Linked DNA regions of Homo sapiens. The protein of the gene in region 1 purifies or fractionates together with the protein of each later gene. This does not show direct contact. Each region holds a gene or a part of one and is shown in the gene's direction. Other genes may lie near its edges.

What was found. The genes of interacting proteins can lie anywhere in the genome.
Region 2: the proteins of EIF5 (region 1) and ZNF326 fractionate together in Homo sapiens (co-fractionation; one large-scale study listed by BioGRID). This does not show direct contact.
Region 3: the proteins of EIF5 (region 1) and SCLY fractionate together in Homo sapiens (co-fractionation; one large-scale study listed by BioGRID). This does not show direct contact.
Region 4: the proteins of EIF5 (region 1) and ISOC1 fractionate together in Homo sapiens (co-fractionation; one large-scale study listed by BioGRID). This does not show direct contact.

Annotation. Positions count from the first base shown.
Region 1 is NC_000014.9:103,337,237-103,340,736, forward strand, and holds part of EIF5 (eukaryotic translation initiation factor 5), read left to right. Parts: intron 1-612; exon of another isoform or gene 613-738; intron 739-1,090; coding exon 1,091-1,236; intron 1,237-1,498; coding exon 1,499-1,657; intron 1,658-1,935; coding exon 1,936-2,097; intron 2,098-2,402; coding exon 2,403-2,567; intron 2,568-3,190; coding exon 3,191-3,325; intron 3,326-3,500.
Region 2 is NC_000001.11:90,005,110-90,008,609, forward strand, and holds part of ZNF326 (DBIRD complex subunit ZNF326), read left to right. Parts: intron 1-23; coding exon 24-135; coding exon of another isoform or gene 136-139; exon of another isoform or gene 140-1,336; intron 1,337-2,235; coding exon 2,236-2,641; intron 2,642-3,500. UniProt on the Homo sapiens protein: Core component of the DBIRD complex, a multiprotein complex that acts at the interface between core mRNP particles and RNA polymerase II (RNAPII) and integrates transcript elongation with the regulation of alternative splicing: the DBIRD complex affects local transcript elongation rates and alternative splicing of a large set of exons embedded in (A + T)-rich DNA regions.
Region 3 is NC_000002.12:238,059,786-238,063,800, forward strand, and holds the start of SCLY (selenocysteine lyase), read left to right. Parts: upstream 1-1,215; 5' UTR 1,216-1,269; coding exon 1,270-1,358; intron 1,359-4,015. UniProt on the Homo sapiens protein: Catalyzes the decomposition of L-selenocysteine to L-alanine and elemental selenium.
Region 4 is NC_000005.10:129,097,749-129,101,248, forward strand, and holds part of ISOC1 (isochorismatase domain-containing protein 1), read left to right. Parts: exon of another isoform or gene 1-18; intron 19-3,500.

The DNA of each region.
Region 1 (3,500 bases):
CCATGATGAACTCCTAAGATCCTAAGATAAGTTACTAACTGTTGGGAACAAAATAGAAGGTTTTTTTGTAATAGGAATGTAAGGGAGACTGGGCACGGTGGCTCATGCTTGTATTCCCCGCATTTTGGGAGGCCAGGGCGGGCACATCACTTGAGGCCAGGAGTTCAAGACCAGCCTGGCCAACATAGTGAAACCCGTCTACTAAAAACACAAAAACTAGCTTAGCATGGTGGTGTGCTCCTGTAATCCCAGCTACTCCGGTAGCTGAGGCATGAGCGTCGCTTGAACCTTGGAGGCAGAGGTTGCACTGAGCTGAGATCGTGCCACTGCACTCCAGCTTGGGCAACAGCGACTCTGTCTCAAAAAAACAATATAAGGAACCTTTTAGTCCTTGTACTATATTTTATCAAATCTAAGACATCTTTCAAAAGTGTATTGTTAATTACCATTAAAGGTGAAAAATAGGCTGCCAATTAAACTGTGCCATATCAATTAAGACATTATCTGAGGGTAGATGAAGTAATGACTAAAATTCTGCTGGAAACCCAGCAAAGTTTCTTTTACTGGCATTGTTTGGTAAAGAGGGCCCCCTTCATTAAACTTGAATATTGCAAGCAACACTCTGTGGCAGATGATCAAAACTGTCTGACACAATTTGAGCTTGCTATAGCAAGAAAGTCTAACCTATTCCGGTGTTCTCTCTCCCATGAGACAAGCCGTTATATAGACTTAAACAGTGTTCCACCTGTTGGCTAAAGCTGGGTTGAGTTAATGACTTTGTTCATGAGGGATGACAGGGATCCTTAGGGCCACCTCTCCCTAGTGGAGGCATCATCACTTCATCTTACTCTTTCTTAGCAGTTACAATACCCCTAATATTTTGTGTCACTCCATTCTTAGACTAACATTCTTACGTATGAAATACATGATGAATTTGATCTGTGAAGCCTCTTAGGTAGCATTGTGTGTGCTGTGTGGTTTTTCTGAGGGGATCCATAGGAAAATAAGGGCAGGGTTTTAAACGTTAATGATGGGCAATGAGGTAATGTAAGTTATGGGGTTAAATTTTTATTTCCCTTTTTTTCTGTAGAGAATAGTGACAGTGGTACAGGAAAGAAAGAAAAAGAAAAGAAAAACAGAAAGGGCAAAGACAAGGAAAATGGCTCCGTATCCAGCAGTGAGACACCACCACCACCACCACCACCAAATGAAATTAATCCTCCTCCACATACAATGGTGAGTGCAGGGTTGATGGCCTAGTGGGCACTAAAGTTGTGTAAAGTATATGGCATTTGGTTGAGGTGGGTGGAAATGTTGAAACTAGCCTTCAGTGTGTAATACACTAATATTGTGGATTCCAAGTACTGTTTGTTGTTTGAATTAAGGTGAACCCAATTTTGGATGGAGATGGACTTGATGCCATTAACTTGGCAAAATCTGAACCTTTTTGTTGTTGTTTTTAAGGCCTTTGATCAAGTAGCTCTGTTTTCATAAACAGGAAGAAGAGGAGGATGATGACTGGGGAGAAGATACAACTGAGGAAGCTCAAAGGCGTCGAATGGATGAAATCAGTGACCATGCAAAAGTTCTGACACTCAGTGATGATTTGGAAAGAACAATTGAGGAGAGGGTCAATATCCTCTTTGATTTTGTTAAGGTAAAACATTTGCTTGGTCTGTAAATCAGCTTCAACCCAGCCTTGTTTGTGCCTTTAGATATATGATACTTTAGCAGTGTAATTAGGATTACTCTAATGCACGACTTTTTAGAACTCTTGTTCATTTAAATATTTTTTGCGCGTGATTCCAGGCACTATGTGTCACAACTGCCAAATTAGGCAGGAAAAATATGTTCATCAGAGCAGGGACTGGCTGGTGTCTTGAGCCTGGCAAAGTGTGCCTCCATTGCACTGAATTGTTTTCCTTTTCTTTGCAGAAAAAGAAAGAAGAGGGTGTTATTGATTCATCTGACAAAGAAATCGTTGCTGAAGCAGAAAGACTGGATGTAAAAGCCATGGGCCCTCTTGTTCTAACTGAAGTTCTTTTTAATGAGAAGATTAGAGAACAGATTAAGAAATACAGGCGCCATTTCCTACGAGTAAGCAAAGTGCTCTGGATTCATAAATGAGATTACAGTTGTGTGGCTTTCGAGATGGTCATATTAACCACTTTTGCTTGTCCTGTCATGCTTGAAAGTGGGGAAATTGACCCACCTTACAAGCCTCTGAGTATCTGAAAGTGCCATACCTAGGCCCTTACAAAGTAACAGGGATGTTTATGCATTGACCTTTTTGAACAACTATGGTATGGGCCATGCACTTGCAGACACTCTTATTTGGGTAATAGAGTTGTCAACTTAGAACACATAAAAAAGATTGTTAACACCAAGGTGTCTATTTGCAGTTTTGTCACAACAACAAAAAAGCCCAACGGTACCTTCTTCATGGTTTGGAGTGTGTGGTAGCAATGCATCAAGCTCAGCTTATCTCCAAGATTCCACATATCTTGAAGGAGATGTACGATGCAGACCTTTTAGAAGAAGAGGTCATCATCAGCTGGTCGGAAAAGGTGGGGAATACATAGGTGGGCTCTTAAAGTTCACAGGTTTTGGGGGGTTTTTTTGTTTGGTTGATTGTTTTTGGAGACGGAGTCTCATTCTGTTGTCCAGGCAGGAGTACAGTGGTATGATCTCAGCTCCCTGAAACCTCCACGTCCCGGCTTCAAGTGATTCTCCTGCCTCAGCCTCCCAAGTAGCTGGGATTACAGGCACCTGCGATCATGCCCAGCTAATTTTTGTATTTTTAGTAGATGGGGTTTTACCATGTTGGCCAGGTTGGTCTCGAACACCTGACCTCAGGTGATCCACTGGCCTCCCAAAGTGCTGAGGTTACAGGTGTGAGCTCCTGCGCCCAGCCGTTCACAAGTATTGAGACGGCTTTGAGATGAAGAAAAAATGTCTTAATATCTATAGCTAAAGTTCAGTGCCTGTGCTGTAGATTGTGATTCGCATCATGTCAGATTTGTAGTCATAACAGACTGCTGAGACTAACGTGTTCACTGAGTACATTGATTCTGTTTGAGGATTCAGACTTGTTAGGACCCAGTCCCCTCAGCTCAGTAAGGGGGATTGTATAAATAATCAAAAGTTGTTAAAATTCCTCAACTAAGAGACTTGTACTCACATTTTTTAGGCCTCTAAGAAATATGTCTCCAAAGAACTTGCCAAAGAGATTCGTGTCAAAGCAGAACCATTTATAAAATGGTTGAAGGAGGCAGAGGAAGAATCTTCTGGTGGCGAAGAAGAAGATGAAGATGAGAACATTGAGGTAAACATTGGGGGAGGAGGGTATTGGATACAGTGCTGGCATGGGTGTTTGAGATTTAAAAAGGTTTGTGAGGAGTGATATAATGGCAGTTTGGGGTAATTTCAGGTTTAGAATTTAAGATGCAGTAAAATACAGCCTCTCAATAATTTGGAAAATAATAGAAAGGGTGATGGAA
Region 2 (3,500 bases), on another chromosome or scaffold:
TTTTTCTTTTTAAACTCTTATAGGGATGGATCGTGACTATGGCCATGGATCCTATGGGGGTCAGAGATCCATGGATTCCTACCTAAACCAGTCATATGGCATGGACAATCACAGTGGTGGTGGTGGGGGTAGCAGGTAAATTGCTTAATCATTTGGCCAAATAATTAGACAACTATAAGATTTTGGATATATTATTTTAAGTACTCTTTAGGCATGTTATGATACTTGAACTTCACTGTTTGCTATTGAATCATCACCTTAAATATTTAAAGGTGTTAATTAATGGGTATAAAATTTAAATCAGTATTACTGGCAGACGTTATTTTAGGAAAACACCAGATAACTATATCATGTCAATATAATAGAGTAAGATACACTTTTTAGCAGTGAACTTTTAAAAAATTCTTTTACTTTTAACTTCTTGTCAATCAAAGTATCCTGAAAAATGATATAAAAATGTTATTGAAAATATTATTTATGAAGCTTTTTCTTAATAATTAAAAAAAATCTTTTCTAATGTGGGGTGCTATGTAAATTAGCAAAGCAGTCTAACTAGAATGGATTTTACTGAACCAGTCTAACATTTACTTTCCAAGAAACATTCAGGACATATTCCTTTAATTCTAATTTTAAAGGAAGAGCATATTGCAATAATAAAAATATTTTTAAAATTATGTTCAGGTTATTTATTGACAGGTACTACTTACACCAAAGCACTTGTGCTCTAGGCTAGAAGCATTGTATTAAAGCCATGAATACTATACCTTTGACTAGTCGAGATTGTATTTATATTTTCCTGTTACTACTGTATAAAGCTTAAACCTACTTAAACAACTACAAGCTTTAAGGTTGACCATATTTCAGGAGAAGGGGTGTCTACTTTTTGAGGCACAAAGGTTCCTGCTGAATATAAGTAAAACTAGTTAGTAGACATGTGAAACAGTCATCCTTCTGCATAAATTGAAGGATCCGGATTCCTTAATGATGGACTGAATGATGCTTACTTTCCTTCTTTCTGCTTCCAGTGTACCACTATGGTTTATAGTAAAGAAAAATTAAGAAAGTGAACAGTTGCAACTATTTTGCTTATGTGATAGATGTTTTGAAAAATGTAGTTGGAAATAGGAATAATTTTTATATGGTTACTAGGATTCAGAAGTAAATCTATTTAGTGATCTGTAAATAATTGAAGTAATGTAACACTTAATGTTTTAATATGTCAGTTATTGCCCTTTTATATTGTGAATGTAATGTGCATAAGCTATATCCGTAGATGTTATTGTTTTATCTCATGTGTAATTGTGGGCCTTTATAAAATTGTGTTGTAAGATATCAAGCAACTTTTGTAATCCATGCTTTGGGTTTGTGAGAAGGAAGATGATTTATTTCTTCTGTTAACTCTCTTAAAACCTCGAGGAGACTGTGTGCTCCCTTTTTTAGGGTAGTTTTATGTGATAATTTCCTGAAGGAAATAATTTTGCAAATAATTGAATATATTATAAGATGTATTCTTTCTCATCTGCCTTGAAAATTCATATGCAGAGGGTATATGTTGGTGATCTTTTATGTTTTATCTGTTTATCCTTCTAGATTTGTTAGATTTTCTAGTCTACAAGTAAAAAGTGATTGAGGATTGATTAATTGACCTTGGCTGAAGTTTGGCAGATTGTTAAATTTTTATAACCAGAGATAATTCCCCAAATTTTGACTCCTACAGACACAATGAAGCAGTTTGTGATATAGATTATTGGGAGTGCAAAAGGATCTCTCTGTGTCACAAATAACCTACATCTAAGTAGACTTCAATTTGTGTCCCTATTGAAAGCCAAAATATTGTAAATGTTTTGTAATTTTTAATATTAGGGATAGATTCAAAAAAGTTTGAATAGTTTGTGAACTTTAGCAAATGACCTTTTCCAAGACTAGGGCTGGGCTTAAATAATGACAGACAAATCTTTTCTTCTTCATAAAATAGAAAAGCTGCTAAGAAGCAGATTTTAAAGCTAAGTTTTACTAAACTCAATTCATATTTATAATCTGACTCAGATAGCTTTCTATCTGGTCTCACGTTGAACTGCCCAGCCCTAATCAAATGTGAACAAAAGTAGAACTGTGCAAACCAGTATGGTATAAATGAATTTTAGTTGATAAATGTCATCTGATAATTTGTCTTTTGAATTGTCTAACATTAGTAAGCTTACTTTTGTTTTTTCCCTCACTGTGCAACTTTTCCAGGTTTGGACCTTATGAGTCTTACGACTCCAGGTCTTCTCTGGGTGGGCGAGATCTGTACAGATCTGGCTATGGTTTTAATGAACCCGAACAAAGCCGCTTCGGAGGTAGTTATGGTGGTCGATTTGAGAGCTCCTACCGGAATAGCCTTGACTCTTTCGGAGGTAGAAACCAGGGCGGGTCTAGCTGGGAAGCACCTTACTCCCGTTCAAAATTGAGGCCTGGGTTTATGGAGGACAGAGGAAGAGAGAATTACTCTTCCTACAGCAGTTTTTCTTCACCCCATATGAAGCCTGCACCTGTAGGCTCTCGGGGGAGAGGAACGCCTGCTTATCCTGAAAGTACGTTTGGAAGCAGAAACTATGATGCTTTTGGAGGACCATCAACAGGCAGAGGCCGAGGCCGAGGAGTAAGTACAACAGAATCTTTTCAGATTCTTTTCACTAGTCACTCTTTTAAACCCTTTCAAGACCATCGTTTTCAACTAGAATAAACACTGTTCATCCCGGTGTATTTTGAAGCAAAAGCTGAGTCATAAACATAATTTTTAGGTTGACTGTAAAAGTTTTTCTAGCACCTCAGAAAATAAGTGGCAGTTTGAGATGATCATAAAGTTGTGCCAAATCTCCCTTTATTAAAAAGGTGAGGCTACTGGTTTGGTCTAAAAGGGGTTAAAAGGAGTTGCATTTTCCTTGTAAACACTAGCAGTTTTGCTGGTGGAATAGTTTGTGGATTATTGTGAAAGGTCACTGAACCCTTTTTGAGTTTTTGAGTAGGTTAAAGGTGCAATGTATGATAAAATGTTTATACTTTGTGGCTAAACTCTAGCAAGTAGAATTTCTTCAAAGCTCCATGTTTCACATTAAACACAGGAGACTAAAAGTTGATGATAGATCAGGATAGCTTAGCCATGTTTATGTGGTGAAGAAGTTGATGTGTATAATAGATTGTACAATGATTTGTGGTCAGTGTAATTTTGCTAACTCACGCTTACAATATGTCCAGTTGCTGGTTGTTTTATTTTCCCTCGTGTTACTAGTTTTACTCTTGAGAAATAATTTCCACCTGTACAGATATGTTTATGGTTTCTTCTTAGGAAGTAATATTTTGTAAATTATTGCTTAAATGAGTAAATATACTAGTCCACAGTTGTTTAAGTTTAGGGTACATAGTGTAAACATTATGCTTTATGTTCTTAGGTCACTTGATTGACATGAAAATTTACCTAGTAAGTGTATGCAGATTGTGGGGTTATTATATAGTTTGAT
Region 3 (4,015 bases), on another chromosome or scaffold:
AAACCGAATTTTGGCTCCAGCCACTACTCGTGTGAACTTGGGCAAGATGCCTTTCTGTATCTTGGATTCCTCATACATAAATACCTACCAGACTGGGTTAATCATCAAGATTAAATTAGTGAACACACGAAAAATACCTAGAACACTGCCTGGCATAGTTCAAGGCTCAATTAAAGGTAGACACTATTATGCCAAAAAAACAAAAAACAACAAAAAAAGTGACGGTAGGATGGCTTCGTGAGGATTTTTGCTCATTTCTACCACTTTCTCAACTGACTTTTCTTAATGGTTGGCGGGACACCAACCATTGGTGGATGTTTACACTTGTGACTGTCTCACAGACAACTCAACATGTCCAAAGCTAAACCCATCATCTTTCCCCCTCCCGTCTTCCCTCTTACCCAGATAAAGGCACTAACATCTTCCCAGTCACTTGTCTAATCCTTGCTTCCTTCCTGTCCCTCATGCCCCAATTCCTATTTAACGGCCTAAACAGATCTTGAATTAATCTTTCCTGCGTTTCCACGCCCACTTAGAGTCCCTCATCTCTGGCCCTATTTTCTCAATGCCCTCCCATCCTCTACTCCAGATCCCCTCAAGTCCATCCTCGATGCGTGACTCTTAACTTCACGCCATCCAGGTCCCCTATGGAGCCGCTCCGACTAACGGACGCGCAGGTCCAGCGGACCTGCTCATCACTGTCCAGGGTGGCCTGCGGGAGACCCCCGGGGCCCTGGCCCTGCTGCCGCGGCCCCGGCACTTCCCCTCGAGGGTTCGCGGGGAACAAGGCCGCGCGGCCCCGGCTCTCCCGGAGTGCACGGTCCCGCGCTCATGCGGCTAGAGGGAGGCACCCGCAGGACTGCCCAGCCGCCTCTGCTCCTCAGGTCCAGCTCGGGCCCCGCCTGCTCTTACGCCGACTAACCGGCCGCGGCCCGATGGCGGCCCTGCCGCAGACAGCAAAGGTCACGGGGCTCCCCCGGAAGTGAAAGTGCGGGGATCCGCCGGCCCAGGAGACGCGGCTTCTAGCGCCCGGTTCCCGGGAAGCTCTGTGACGCGCTAAGCCCCGCCCCCACCCGTCACCTGACCCAGCGCAGCCTCGCCTCCCCGCTGGGGGCTCGGCGGCCCTCTGAAGCGGGTGGATTGGCTGGGGTGCTTCGCTCAGCCAATCCGGACGCGCCCGGGCGTCGCGGCCCCGCCTCCTCCCCGGCGCTCTGGGCCCGTAGCGCTCCGCGGGAAGGAGGCTGGATGCCCGGCAGCAGTGGGGCGGGGATGGAGGCGGCCGTGGCGCCGGGGAGGGATGCGCCGGCACCCGCGGCGAGTCAGCCCAGCGGCTGCGGGAAACACAACTCGCCGGAGAGGTGCGCGCCTTTAGGGCAGGGCTGGGGAGCGGCCGGCGCCTGTCGCCGATTGTCCCGCGCGGGAGGACGAAGGGGGCTCCCGGCCTGTGGCCGCTCTCGCGTGGGGCGTCCCGCGCGGGGATGTCCGCGAGGTCGGCCTAAGTCAGGGATGCGAGCTTCAAGGAGGAGCGGGTGCGAGCTGTGGCCCCGCAAGGGCCCACGGAGAGGTGACTTTGGGGCCGAAACCCGAGTGACTTCCAGGGGTGAGGTTTGCAGGTTCTGGGGAAGCAGAGCCTGCCAGGAAGAGGGCACAGCAGATGCGAAGGGCAGGGGACTTGCCGGAGGTGAACCGGCAGAGCCCCTGAGCCCGGGAAGAACTTTGGGGTTCATTCGGAGCCTTATGGGGCCTCGGAAGTTGATCACGGGGCGATGCAATTTAAGTGTTTTGAAGGAGTCCTTCTGGCTGCTTCCTAGAAAGTAGGGGCGCGGGTAGGCATGGGACGAGAGGAAGCCGGGAAGCCAGTTGGGGATCTTGTAACAACCTAGGAGAGAGATGTGGTGTGCGCCCAGAAACGGATGCGTTGGTAGGAAGCTGGTGCACTGGGGCAGGTGAAAGGGAATCAAGGGTTCTCCCAGACTGCTGGCCCAGCTGCAGGAAACGGGATGGCCACCGCTGAGAAGCGCGGAGACCCGAAGCACGTGGTATCCATACTAGTTAAGTCCGAGAAGAGCAGGAGGCAGGGGTATGCATTTTCTGGTTTGTGTGTCTTCTTTCCAGACCCCTCTTTTTCCTTTTTGTGAGCTCATTCGCTACCCATGCTTAGAATATGAGGGGGTCCAGGCCTAAAGCACACACATTTGGCATTCTACCTTGGTTGGAACAAAGTGAAGGGATCTGGGAAAATATCCCCTAGGGAATCAGTGGAGCGAGATTCCCAAGATTTTTTATTTTTTGGTTATGAAGCTAACAAAGTTGAGCCTGCTCATCCAATACTGATAGCATTTTAAGGAAGCAGCAAATAATGAAGCAAAGGAATGTGTAAAGTATTAATCTGAACAAAATAGATTTGTTCAGCCCAGCAGCAGATTGAAGAGCTACAGTCGCTCAACAAACACTAGCTAGCCTAAGGTACTTTGGATGCTTATTTATAGGAAAGAAAAACAGATATAAGGGCACATGCAAAGTCAAGCCGGGCTGGGGGATTCCTAGGACTATTAATACTAGTACCAGAGTGGTAAAGGATGGCGAGTCAAACTTGTCAAAGCCTTGTACCTATTGAGTGATTTTTTTTTTTTTTTTTAATTGAGATGGAGTCTCACTCTGTCACCCAGGCTGGAGTGCAGTGGTGCAGTCTTGGCTCACTGCAACATCCACTGCCCGGGTTCAAACGATTCTCCTGTCTCAGCCTCCCAAGTAGCTGGGATTACAGGCACGTGCCACCACGTCCAGCTAATTTTATTGTATTTTTAGTAGAGATGGGGTTTCGCCGTGTTGGCCAGGCTGACCTTGAACTCCTGACCTCAGGTGATCTGCCCGCCTTGGCCTCCCAAAGTGCCGGGATTACAGGCGTGAGCCACAGGGCACAGCCTGTTGAGTGATTTTGAACAGAAAAGATGCTTCATTTCAACTAATGCACATTCTGTCCACACTCAGTGGCTTAACAGCCACAGTTAGTCATTGTATCTGGGTTTTCATGTGGATTGGTGTAAGCACTGTTTATTTAAAAACTAGATAAATTAATATCAGGCAGGACTACTACTACACATTTTTCTAAAGGCTTTCGAAGGTTTTGGATATTAGTAAAAAGATATACAGATAAATTTTACTTAGTGAGGGATCTTTCAGGGAATTTGTACTTTCTGTGGCATTTATTTTGTCATCTTATAAAAATCAGGCCCCTGTTGTGTGGCAACCATGGGCTTCAACATTGGTGACAGGGCAGTGAGAAAAACAGAGCCCCCATGCCCATGGAGCCATACTTCTGTTACTCTATTAAGGTAGACAGTAAGGGAACAAGTCTGGTATGTCAGATGATGATGCTGCCCAGAAAGGAAGGCGGGAAGGGGACCTGGAGGCTGGGGAGGTAGGGACATAGGTGGCTGCAGTTTTGTGGGTTTGTTTTTTTTGTTGTTGTTTTTTTTTTTTTTGAGACGGACTCTCACTCTGTTGCCCAGGCTAGAGTGCAGTGATATGATCTCGGCTCACAGCAACCTCTGCCTCCTGGGTTCAAGCAATTCTTCTGCCCCAGCCTCCCTAGTAGGGCTAATGTTTGCATTTTTAGTAGAGATGGAGTTTCACCATGTTGGCCAGGCTGGTCTCAAACTCCTAACCTCAAGTGATCCACCTGCCTTGACCTCCCAAAGTGCTGGGATTATAGGCGTGAGCCACCGCGCCCAGCCAGCTGTAGTTTTAAGCAGAGCTGCAGGGCAGGGGGTCTCACAAGAGGACTAAGTTGGAACAAAGACCTAAAAAAGTAAGGTGGGGGCAGGGCATGTAGTCTTTCTGGGCAAAGAAACTGAAAGTGCAAGGTCTGGGGCCAAAGTTCACCTGCCCCAGGGAGAAGCCCAGGTCACTAGGAGCCCCACAGGCCATCGCAAAAATGAGTGTGGGGAAATAAGGCGAACCTCTGATGAAGTTAAAACAGCAGACAGGAAAGTTCCCTTGGGGAATGTGCAGC
Region 4 (3,500 bases), on another chromosome or scaffold:
GGCATATGCAGAGCGTCACTTACAGCCGAACACAGCACTACTGCTTGCATGTTTAATGAGAATTGAGCAGTCTGGAAAACAAGTCACAAACTTGAGCTCTTGTTTGTTCATTTGTCTTGGTGCTGCTCCTTGTTCTTTGGAATAAATGCTTGTCACTTAGGAAGACTCAAGGTGGCCTATCGGTGAGTCCATGTTACTGGGGATGGTTGGCCCCTTCTTGAAGGCAGGGACAAAGAGCACAAGTTTGGCCACATGTAGTTCATTGCGTAAATAGTGATTTATTATTTCTCCACACTTGGGCCCTGGAGCCTCTGTGGCCCTGGCTCACGTACTGTTAGTCTAGAATGTATTCTTCATTTGCGCCGTGGTATGAGTTGCCTTCGTGCTTATTCTGACAGCTGTGGCTGATGACCTTGTGAAACACAGTGGCTGCCTTTGCCACACTGCACCCGTGCTTGTTAGTGGTTCTATGAGAACTGATCTTTAAGACCCCCCATTGCCAGTATTAGGCTGTGGTAAGTTTTTGGTGACTTCTTTTCTTAAATATTCTGTCAAAGTAACAATGTCTGCCGACAGCTCAGGTAGATGAAGGCATAGCTCATGTTTCATGCTTGGTTTGTATGTCTGCAGCTTTGCCAAATGCTTGAGATCTGATGAATTTTGAGACACGGGAAAGAATATAAATGAGAGGATTATGTAGTGGGGATTTACGTCATTTTTATGACTTAAAAGTTTTAATTTTTCAAAAGGTATTTTGTAAGTTTTAGGTAAAGGAAACATTTAACTATGGAAATTTACATAAATGTTGTATCATGCTACCACCAGTGCATTTTCCAGCCTGTGGCCAGGAAAGACAGAGCCTGCAGAGAAGAGAGGAGGAAATGGACAGTGTAAGAAGGATGCCAGTGAGGGGATTTTACTTCTGTACATAGCAGGGAAGGCTTTGGCAGCTTTCTGTGGCCAGAAGATAAGGGCGTTCCAGGGAAGGTTATTTTGACCTTTTCCCAAGATGGTTAACTGGCAGGGCATTTTGCTCCAGCTTTCATTTTCTTGGAAGTTTATTACTATTATTATTATTTTAAACAGGGGCATGAACATTTTATAGCTAGAAGAGACTGACAGGTTCATGGTGGGAAGGGAGGGAAGGCAGGAGGAAAGGAACCTTGTTCGCCTTTGGCTTGATAGTTTGAAGGTAGTGGTTTTTGATTACAAAACCTTTGCCTCAGGAGCGTGGCAGGAAGAGGGGGTAGATGAGCTAATGCTCAGAGAGGAGACAGCTGGATCCTGAGGTGGTTGTATTGTCTCTACCCCATTGGTTTGATGTGTGTCACTTAAAAAAAAATTAACATTCCAGAATAATACCTAAAGCATTGTATCCTTTTTTGCTCCTTCTGAATACATTAGAGCTACCTATAAATAAACTGTGTTTGAGAGTAGGAGCTATGATCTGAATTTTGAATTTTTTTTCTTGCATTTAGCTAACCAAGGGAATCCCAATGTAGATTCAAATGTCATTGTGGTCCTGGGCTTGTCTAGCTTCACCTTCACCCCAGTCTGAGGCACAGTCTTAAGAAATCCTTCAGTCCTCACCCCTGGGGTGGGTGGAGACAGCTGGCGTCCCTTGGGGATTTAGAAAACTCATACCTTAACTGATAAGCTAGGGTTGTAACCTTATGCCAGTGACATCAATGTTCACAATAGGTGAATATGTTGTAAAAATAAGAGCCAATAAGTATTATTTCACAGCCTAAATTAAAAAGTCCCTGATCTGTTTTTCCAGGAACAATCTTGTCTTAGTGATTTGGTAAGGTCTTGGTAACATCTGGAAATCTACTTTATAAATCACTTTATGATTCACTTTCCTTATTCTGCATATTATGTTAACATAACAAGTTATGCAATGTTAGCATTCCTATAAATATATTTATAGGTTTCTAAAGGGATCTTAATTGTAAATATTTATCCTCATTAGAGGGTAAGTTTTTTAACATATGCTAAGTTTTAGAGTGTAGTGTTTAATATATGAGGGACATCAGAATAGCCTAATACATTTATTGATTGATTATATGAAGCCCATTTAATCCTTGAAATACCCCTATGATGTAGATACTATTTTTCTTGCTGTGTTACAGATAAGGAAATTGCATATGGAGATATTTACCTAAGTTCATGTAATCGAAATTAGTGAAATTGAGATTTGCACTCAGATTCTAATGCCTACTGAGGCTTGTGCTATAAAGGGGATCTTTGTAACCTGGGGGAGTCACATCACAGACCTCTGTTGTAAGTGAGTTGACATTGGAGCCAGGCCTTACTATAGCTGTGGTCATCGGATTTCCTCAGAAACACTTGGGAGTGAAATAACGATGCCCCAGGTCCCCTTCCAGACTTTCTCCCAAACAGATCATGCCTATTTTGTGACTCTAATTGACTACCAAATTTTTTAAACATCGCATTTACAGTTTCAAATTTTAATTATTCCAAATCCCTATAGTAATTTGCTATGGGCTGGGTGATGTGAAAAGTCTTTTGAGTATGAAATCTAAGGTCAAATCCCAGCTATGACAATTCTTAAGAAAGTAGACAAAATATTTATACTTGAATCTGATCTCTTAAACTCTTGCTTGAGGAAGCCATTGGCTATGATCAACTTTTTATATTTAAATATATATATATTTGTATATGTATCATGTGCAAATGTGTGTGTAGGACTATGTGTAGGCATATAGATATACGAAGGTGTGTGGATACATATATTTATATGTGATTTGTTTATATTCCTTAAATATGCATAGATCTGTAATTGCTATGCTTTTACTCCTGGTGACATTTGGTCCAGTCCACTTTTAATTTGCTGAGGCAGGACTGGCTGTCTTACAGTTGCAACATGTAAATGTTTGGCTACTGGCGATATTTTTTAATTACCTTAAAGATTTTGGTTTAAGAGAACTTCATGAGTCAAAGTAAGAAATTTCCGAAATTTAGAGAGTTGTATGATTTTAACAGCCTGTTGGAATTCATGTGGATTTGGGGTGAGGATTTGGGAGGATTGGTTGGACATGATTAAAGTTTTTCAGTATGTTTTTGGTAGCCACAAAAGTTCCTTTCTGTTTGTAAGGTATAGACGTTATTCCCCCAAATATCATAGCATAGGGAGGCCATTAAAAAAAAAAAACTAACTTTTTATTTTAGAATAGCTTTAGATTTACAATAAAGTTGTAAAGATAGTACAGAGAGTTCCTATATTCCTGTACCCAGATTCCCTATTGTTTTTGTTTGTTTGTTTGTTTGTTTGTTTGTGAGACAGGGTCTTGCTCTGTTGCCCAGGCTGGACTGTAGCCTCGACCTCCCGTTCTCAGAGGATCTTCCCACCTCAGCCTCCTGAGGAGCTGGGCCACCAAGCTCAGCTAATCAAAAAAAAAAAAAAAAAAAAAAAAAAAAAAAATATATATATATATATGGTTGGGTTGGGTGTAGTGGTTCACACCTGTAATCCCAGC